Linked DNA regions of Homo sapiens: region 1 is linked to region 2. The links come from fine-mapping of genetic effects on gene expression. A gene starts in region 2. The other region holds a variant in brackets. All regions are shown on one strand. Distances are between the middles of the regions.

Evidence for each region. PIP is the estimated chance that this variant, and not a neighbour inherited with it, causes the effect.
Region 1: its variant is the best candidate, but not a certain one, in a credible set for the expression of GTF2E1 in whole blood (INTERVAL, PIP 0.63).

The regions. Positions count from the first base shown.
Region 1 is chr3:120,786,051-120,790,452 of GRCh38, forward strand. No RefSeq gene overlaps it. Among named protein-coding and RNA genes, the nearest start is that of GTF2E1, 46 kb to the left of the region's middle. The variant TTAGA/T (reference allele first, on the strand shown) is at 2,208.
Region 2 is chr3:120,740,208-120,744,609 of GRCh38, forward strand. GTF2E1 (general transcription factor IIE subunit 1) reads left to right here and starts at 2,537. Exons shown (of 5, transcript NM_005513.3): 1 at 2,537-2,587. It overlaps RABL3 (RAB, member of RAS oncogene family like 3), which reads right to left and starts at 2,309. Exons shown (of 8, transcript NM_173825.5): 1 at 2,255-2,309. The coding sequence starts at 2,300. RefSeq lists enhancers at 1,570-2,208, 2,040-2,329, 2,209-2,847, 2,295-2,589, 2,470-2,589.

The DNA of each region.
Region 1 (4,402 bases), 46 kb after region 2:
TCTCTGCAACCTTGCCAGCATCTGCTATTTTTTGACTTTTTAATAATAGCCATTCTGACTAGTGTGAGATGTCTCATTGTGGTTTCGATTTGCATTTCTCTAATGATTAGTGAGACTGAACATTTTTTCGTATGCTTGTTGGCCACATGTATGTCTTCTTTTGAGAAATGTCTGTTTATATTTTTTTGCCCATTTTTTAAATGGAGTTGTTTATTTTTTGCTTGTTGATTTAAGTTCCTTATCGATTCTGGATATTAGACCTTTGTTGAATGCACTTTGCAAATATTTTCTCCTGTTCTGTAGGTTGTTTACTCTATTGATAGTTTCATTCGCTGTGCAGAAGCTCTTAAGTTTAATTAGGTCCCATTTGTCAGTTTTTGTTTTTATTGCAATTGTTTTTGAATCTTCATTATAAAATGTTTGCCAGGGCCTATGTCCAGAATGGTATTTCCTAGGTTTTCTTCTAGGGTTTTTGTAGTTTTAGGTTTTATATTTAAGTCTTTCATTCATCTTCAGTTGATTTTTGTATATGATGAAAGGAGGGGGTCCAGTTTCAGTCTTCTGCATATGGCTAGCCAGTTATCCTAGCACCACTATATTGAATAGGGAGTCCTTTCTCCATTGCCTGTTTTTGTTGATTTTGTCAAAGATTGGATGATTGTAGGTGTGTGGCTTTATTTCTGGGTTTCCTATTTTCTGTTCCATTAGTCTATGTGTCTGTTTTTATACCAGTACCATGCTATTTTGGTTACTGTAGCGTCGCAGTATAGTTTGAAGTCGGGTAGTGTGATGCCTCTGGCTTTGTTCTTTTTGCTTAGGATTGCTTTGGCTATTTGGGCTCTTTTTTGGTCTTCTCATATGCTAGGGTAATTCAAACCAGGTGAAGGATATTTTAATTAAGGGATTAATGTAGGTGGCAGGTTTAGAATTGAGGTTGTAGCAAAGCACAGCAAAAGCATGAGTTAATTTGGTTTCTCCTTCCTCATCTTGCCAAGTTACTTCGTTTCTAGTCATCTGAATGAGTGAGGGAGAAATAATTCATTCATTTCATAACTTGTTGGTATTATCTGAGACAAGTGGACACTGAATGGAAACAAGTTTGGGAAGAACAGTTCATTTTCTTTTCTAGCAGTTGGCTTGATGGCTAGGTTTCCAGCCAGGACCACAATTGAAAGACTTACATATGTACTTTCTTATTCTCTTTATTCTTGAGTTTAAAAGTAGAAAATAACAATCAAAAAACAAATACGAAAATCTTTAGAATTTAGAAATTGGTGTAATTTCACCTTTGTTTTGTTTCCACTAAAGCTACTTTATGTCATCTCTAGCAGAGCTGAGCTACTATCACTTTATTTTTTTTAATATCTAAAAATGAGGAAGATTTCCAGAAAAGAACTGGCACTATAGTAAATTTACTGTCAATTTTGTTGGCTCTTTCTGCTACAAAAGAAGCAAACTAAACAGTGAACAAGATAAGTACAGGTACTTTTAAAACATCTAATGCAAAAATGGGTTGGGAAGGGGAAAGAGTTATGAAATTTTACTTCTTCCTTTGAAGAGCTAAAGGAATGAACCTATTTTGGCATGTCCTCAGGGCAGGAACAAGTACCTTAGCTTCTCCTCAGAAAGAGCTTCATGACCTTCTGAGTATCAGAGGTGGCCTTTCCTATTCTAGTTGCAAAGCAGGTAGGCCTAGTACACAATCCAGTTTCAACAGTCAACCAGTCAACCCACGTTTCCCATAATGCAGAAGTGCATAATGGCCTACCTAATGTAAATAAGTCTGAGCAATTAGTCTGGAAAGAAGGCTGGTGCCAGGTCTGAAAATGCCTTGAATCATTGGGGCATACAGGATGGTTGTACAGTTTTTTGTTAATGTTTTAATTATTTAAAAATTCATTCAATAGGAAATATATATGGTAAAAAATGAAAACTCCCCAGCCCACCACTATCTTACTACACTGAGGTAATCATTGTTGATAGTTTAATGTGTATCCTCCCAGACCTTTTCTAGGCCTTTAGAAACCACACATACATACTACAGTGCTTTTTACACAAATGGAATCATATCATACACATTGCCATTTGGTTTTGAAATATCTTGGAGAGCTTTCCATTCAGTATGTTTAGATCTTCATTTTAAAAAACAAAATAGAATTTTATAGTTGTATAATGGTTTACGTAAAAATTCCTTTATTGACGGGCAT[TTAGA/T]TAGTGTCCAGTTTTTCACTATTACATGCTATAATCAATTACTCATTTTCATTCTCTTCGAGTATTTCTACAGAATAGAATCATAAAAAAGAAATAGCCAAACAAAGGGCATGTCTATTTTAAACTCTGATATATACTGCTAAACTGCTCTTCAAAAAGATTGCTGGATGATTTTAAGCAGAGGAGTAATTTGTAGTATTGATACTGGATTGGAGTTTAAACCTAGAGATTATTAAGGCCATTTCAATAGTCTTGGTAAGTAATTTGATCAAAAGACCTGAGCAAGTCAGTGGGGATGAGAAAGTGGGGACAAATTTAAGAAACTCTGGGGAGGTAAAATTAATGAGATTTGGTGACTGTTTGGATAGGGCAGTGTCTTGGATGATTCTCAGGTGTCAAGCTGGTTAGTAATTCCATTAACACCATTATAAATATAGGAGGAGAAGCAGGTTTTCCTTCTGTTCCAGACTCAGTAAATGTCACCACCATTTTACTTACAAGCTCAAGCCAAAAGTCTTAATAGTTTAATCCCACATCCAACTTACCAGCAAGTCCTGTTAGACTCAAAATATAATCTGATTTCGAAAGTAGAGGTGACAGGACTTGCTAATAAATTGAAACTATACTCTAAATCTGACTTCATTGCTTCCACCACCTCCACCCTACTCCCAGCCACATGAACTCTCACCTTGACTACTCCAGCATCCTCCCAACTGGTCTCCCTGCTTCCATGCTTATCCCCCTCTCACACACACATGCATTTTAACCATTTCCCACACACAAAGGGATCTTTTAAATCTAAATTAGATTATCTCACTCCCCTTAAAACCCTTAATTGATTTTTCTTAGAATAACATCCAAACTTACTCTATTCACTAGGCTTTACATGGTCTAGCCCCTGGCTACCTACATCTGCTAGTCTACTCTCTAACCATATTGACATTCTCTGTGTTTCTCAAATAAGCCAGCCTTTTTCCTGCCTTAGATCTTTGCCCTAGTGGTATACTTCGCACTTGTCCCTGTTATTTCATTCTCAGCTTCAGTACCACCTCACAGAAGTCAGTCTTCTCCTTTCTCTAAAGGAATCGCTTCCACTATCATATTTTTGTTTTATTTTCTTCATAGAAAAATTATTTGAAATGAACTTGTTTATTTCTTATTTGATTGTTTATGTCTATCAACCCCTCAAAAGACTGTAAGCTCCTTGGGGGCATATAGAATTAATTCTGGCAAGTAGTAGGGTCTCAATAAATGTTGAATGGATAGATGGACAGAATTGGCACTAGGGAGAACATAGCCTTTTCTCCACCAGGGCTCATCATTTTGTTCCTGCCTGAATGGCAAGTCAGTTAATTATGTTCTTAATCAGTTAATTACGTTCATTTGTGGAACATGTTACCTAGGGCTGTGTCTCCAGGACCATCAGTAGGGGATGCTGGGATATAGCTTCTAGGGCATAGCCAATGAGATGTTTAGAGGCTTTAATTCTAGTAGCCATTAGCTTTAGTGTTTTTAGAAAAGGGAATTAAGTGAGTACTTTGTCTAGGGCTGCAGTGTTCAATAAGGTAGCTTGGTTGCTAGCATGCACTTGAAATGTATCTAGTCCAAATTGAGGTAGGCCATAAATATATAATATATGCTGAATTTTGAAGACCCAGCATGAGAAGAAAGAATGTAACATATCTTAATTTTTTATATAGAATATACATTGAAAAGAATAGCATAGAATCAATTGAATTAAAGAAATATAATGTTAAAAATAATTTTACCTTTTTTTTTTTACTTCTTTTAATATGACTGAACATGTAAGTCTACATAAACGGCTCACATTTGTAGCTTAAATTCTATTTCTATTGGACAGCACTGGTCTAGGGCATCTTCTTCAGGTGCTAGAGTTACACGAATAACGTTATGTATTGTACTTAATGATTATTTGCATTTTTCCTCATATACAAGTTTTTTACCTGAATGCTGTGCCCACCCTCCTCTCCTCCCCCACCCTCTACCTGAAAGGTAGGTTTTACTTTGTTTGTAGGCTCTTTGTTCTTGGGAACGAATGGATTTTGTTTCTGGTTTATTTTTTCCCAGTGGGGAGGTGGGTTGGGGATGGTTGGGGTAATGTGTTTTGTTTGTTGCTTTTTTCTTGAAGTAGGATAGAATGGAAGGAAACTGCAGTAATGGCGATAAGGAA
Region 2 (4,402 bases):
ATTACCAAATATCTCAATAGGATAAAAACAAATCACCAAATATCAACTTATTCTTTTTATTTTTTTTTCTTGGAGACAGGGTCTCACTCTATCACCCAGGCTAGAGTGCAGTGGCACGATCCTAGCTCACTGCAGCCTCAAATTCCTGGGCTCAAGTGATCTTCTCACCTCAGCCTCCTGAGTAGCGGGACTACAGGCGTGCACCACCATGCCCGGCTAACTTTCTGTACTGTTTTTGGTAGAGAGAGGGTCTTGCCATGTTGCCCAGGCTAGTCTTGAACTGAGCTCAAGCAATCCACCCGCCTCAACCTCCCAAAGTGCTGGGATTATAGGCTAGAGCCACCTTGTCTGGCTAAGTCATTTCTTTATATATTTGTGAAACCCTCAAAATTTTATAAGGGAAATGGCCTTTATTTAAAAATAAACTTTCGGGTTTGAAAGAAAGGCTGAGGAAGTGTAAAAAGTGCATTCTAAACTGTCAGACTGTGTACTTTTAAATCGCAGTTAAAAGGAGACTGACAAAATTACCTTTTAAAAAGATAAAAAGACAATAACTAACTTTGCACATAAAGGTTAACATTAGTGAATGTGTGACAACATCAATCACTTTCCTGGCCATCACAGCTGTGTCTTCTGCTTTACAACTAAACCATAACAGGGGAGGCGGGCAGTAGGGAAGCTTATCAATTGCCTGATTACTTTTCCACATTTAATGTAGCTGCTAATTCTATCCCTGTTATATGACGCATTAATTCCACAGTTATAACCCCAGAACCTAATACAGTGCCTGTTGGAAAGAAAATAAATTGACTAGTTGCAACAGTTTGTAATATGAAGGGATTGTTAGATACAATAGAAAATGGAATTATAAAGGACACAAAACACCCACTTAACGTATCATGAAGAAGTCTGTTAGTTCTGGATTGTAAATTCTACTCAGTGATACTCTTGCCAAGTCCCTTTAGGCCACAATTACTTTATCTGTAAAACTGAGTGATTTTATTAAATTAACTTCGGCACCACTTCAAGCTACCTGATAGAAATGAAGTCGACATAAATTGTGATTATGTTCATTAAGTTTCAAAAGGCAACTTTCTTAGGGGAATATTAAATAATGCTCTCTGTAAAATATTTCATAATGCAAATAATCCTCAGGGCAATGTGAAAACATTCTTAACCTATATTTGCTGCCCACAATTTTATTTAGTTTCTATTAAGTTTTCAAGCCTCTCCACCTCCAAGCATCTAGCACAACGTCTTTGCTCACAACACATGCTCTTAGGCCAACTCCAGAGGAGCGCTTCTATAAAATGCAAGGTCAGCATTTATTGAAGTTACTAAGGAGAGCTGAATTGGGGATTATGGAAGAAAAGATAAGGGCAGTGAGGTGGGAGCTGGAAATCCAGACGCCAGCTGTAGTTCTCAAATGTCCCAGGTGTCAAAAGAATTCTTTTTGCATCCACTGAGATTAAAAAAATATATATATATTTAACACTAGGATTAAATTGGGCTCAGCGTTAAATCCTAGCTGCTTCAGAATAAAACTCTTACTTTAATTTCTCTATTGTACAGTCTAGGACATAATAGGTTTTCAATGAAGATCAAACGAGAACCAGGAAATTAAGCTCAGTTAAGAATAAAACAGGACCACTACCCAATATGTCACTGCATAATTATAACTTAGCGTTTAAGTTCGTGGACTCCGCGTTCAAAAGGATTCTGTCATTTACATCTCTCTGCCTCACTACTCTCATCTGTAAAATGGGATAACAGGACTGTCTCAGAATTAAATGAGTTAATACATGCGAAGCGCTTGCCAGTGCACGTTTCTCAGTGCACGTTTCTCAGTGCACGTTTGACTTCCTTAATGAACAAAATCTCTTGAAGGCACGGTCCTACTAACTTCTGTACCCTTAACATAGAACCCCATACAATACTCAATGCCTGCTTTTTTTTTTTTTTTTTTTAATAAAAGAATTGACAATACACTCTAGGCTGGGGTCGCCTGGGAGACCGATGCGGAAAGCCGCGAAGGCAAAAGACCCGGGCTCCGCGACCCCCACCCGCGCGACGACGCCGCCGCCACCGCGTCGTCACACGGAGCAAAGTCCCCTGGGAAGTGTAGTCTTCAGGCCCTGGGAGGGACTTCAGCCACGGGCCGAGGAGCCAGGAAGTTGAGGGAAGGAAGCTAAGGGGAGGGTTACTGGGTAACTCAAAAGTGTCTGGAGCCCCAGAGGTAGGGTAAGCCGCTCACCTGAGTCTCCCAACACCAGTACCTTCACCCGATCCAGGGACGCCATCTTGCCACTGCCTTCCCTGGGTTAACGCCTGTTCCTGGATTGTAAGCCAATCAGAGTTGGGCATGGAGGGCAGAGCCTTCAATTTCATTGGCCACTCGGAGCGTGACTGTCTTGATCGAAGGTTTCACTGAACTCATTGGCTGGTCTGGTAAAAGGTAGCGGGGTGCTTCCCCAGCTGGTCGCAGGAATAGTGCGTTTTCTTTGTCGCGCAAGGGGCGTGGTTCATTTAAGCCGGTAGTTGAAGCGCTGGGGGCAGCTGTAGTGGGAGTGTTCCAGGATTCGCCTTGGTAAACCTTGTTCCCTGTTCCTTGTTCGGAGTTCCCTGGCCGGGCATTGCATTTCATGATTTCTTCTTCCTTTCGCTCCCTCTTAACTATCCTCCCCTAATGAATTACCCTGTTGCCTTGGTCCTCTTGGTCCTCCAAAGAACCATTGACCCCGGAGCGGCCCGTGTGCGACCTCGGGTAGGGCGGGCTTGGCTGCGCCGAGTGTGGCCCTGGACCCAACTGGGAGAGTCCGAGGGAGTTTGGGGTCTCGGAGTCTCGCATTGGGGAGGAGTGCATATCACCGAACGCGTCTCGTGGAGGGCAGCTGGGTCCGGAGGTTTCGCGGTAGTTTGCCGCTGTGTGTGTGAAGGCGTGGAAAGTGCCATGAAATGTGGTAACACAACACCGCAGTTAGATGTGTAGAATCCCAAGTTGTTCTAGAACTGGAGTGGCGATTTACTGAAGTAATCTAACTGGTCTCTTCGCATCCACTTTTCTTGTTTTTTTCTCCACTCTGCAGTCAGTACAATCTTTTAACATCCTGAATTTGATCCACGCACCTCCCGCTTAAAACTGTTTTAAATTTAAGAAGAGAGTGCCCAGTAGCCTGTCCGATTCTACCTTGGAAACAAGAGTGGAGGAAGTGAAGCAGGGGGAAGCTGGCAAGATGAGCCATGTTGGAACAAAACGTGCCTAGGAGACATATGGAAAGTTTTATGGAAGTACTTGTCTGGCTATGCTAGATGCTGGAAATTAATTGGTGAACAAGATGAAGTCTGGTCTTAGAGATAGACATGGAGAAAGTACAAGAAGGGGGAAAGAGCCATGGAACACGTGAAAGGGGATGATTGTATGCTACTTAATGGGGAGTCTGGGAAGGCCTCCATGAGGAAATATCATTTGAGACTTGAAGGATGATTAGGAGAAGGGGGTTTGGGCTTAGCTGTAGGGGCAGAAGGAACAGCATGTGCAAAGCCTTGGGATGCAGGGAAAGCACATGTGGCTCATGGAATTGAGAATATGCTGGTGTGGCTGGTTATGAGGCTGACAGGGTAGACAGAGGGCAGAGGGTGCCTTCTTTTCAACTTTGTTTCTCTGGCTCCGTGCCTGGTGCACAGTAGTCCTTAAATGTTGATATGATTAAAATACACGTGGGTCTGGGCTGGGGTAGGGAGGTGAGGCTGGGATCTGACTCATGGACTATGGAGATCAAAGGAAGAAACAAAGGTCCTAGGAGGTCCCACGCTCAGAAGTCTCCAGAGACCAGCCATACTCCTTCCCTAATAACGCCAGCTGCTATTCGGCTTCAGCTTATTGTTTCCATGTGGGAACATGGGCTCACTTTTTCCTCAGATATTTCCAATTTTGCAAGAGGAGCTGGAAGTTGAAATTTATGTGAACTCTTACAATTTTTAAATGTTGACAACTAATTCAGAAAATTTTTGAAACATTCTTTGGGTGATACAATGCGTGGGGGGCTGCCAGTTTGAGAACTCTTACCTAAGACCTCTAGAGATTGAGTAAGGAGATTCAGCGTGAGTGGGAAGTGATGGAGGAGAGAAGGTAGTGGTCAGGAAGGAGGATTTTAGAATGCAGAGATTTTGAACAAAGTGGCACAGCTTGATTTCATTCCTGAGCTCTAGTTTCATTTGTTCAGCTACCTGCTGGGCATATTCAGAGGAATATCCTATGGTATTTCCTCAAAGACACTTCTAAAAGTGATTTCCTCATTTCTTCCTGCTCCTCGTCAGGGGTCACCTATTTCTCATGGCAGTACTTTTCCTAGCTACGCTGGCTCAAAACAGAGAGCTATTTAAGATTTTTCCTACTCTCATA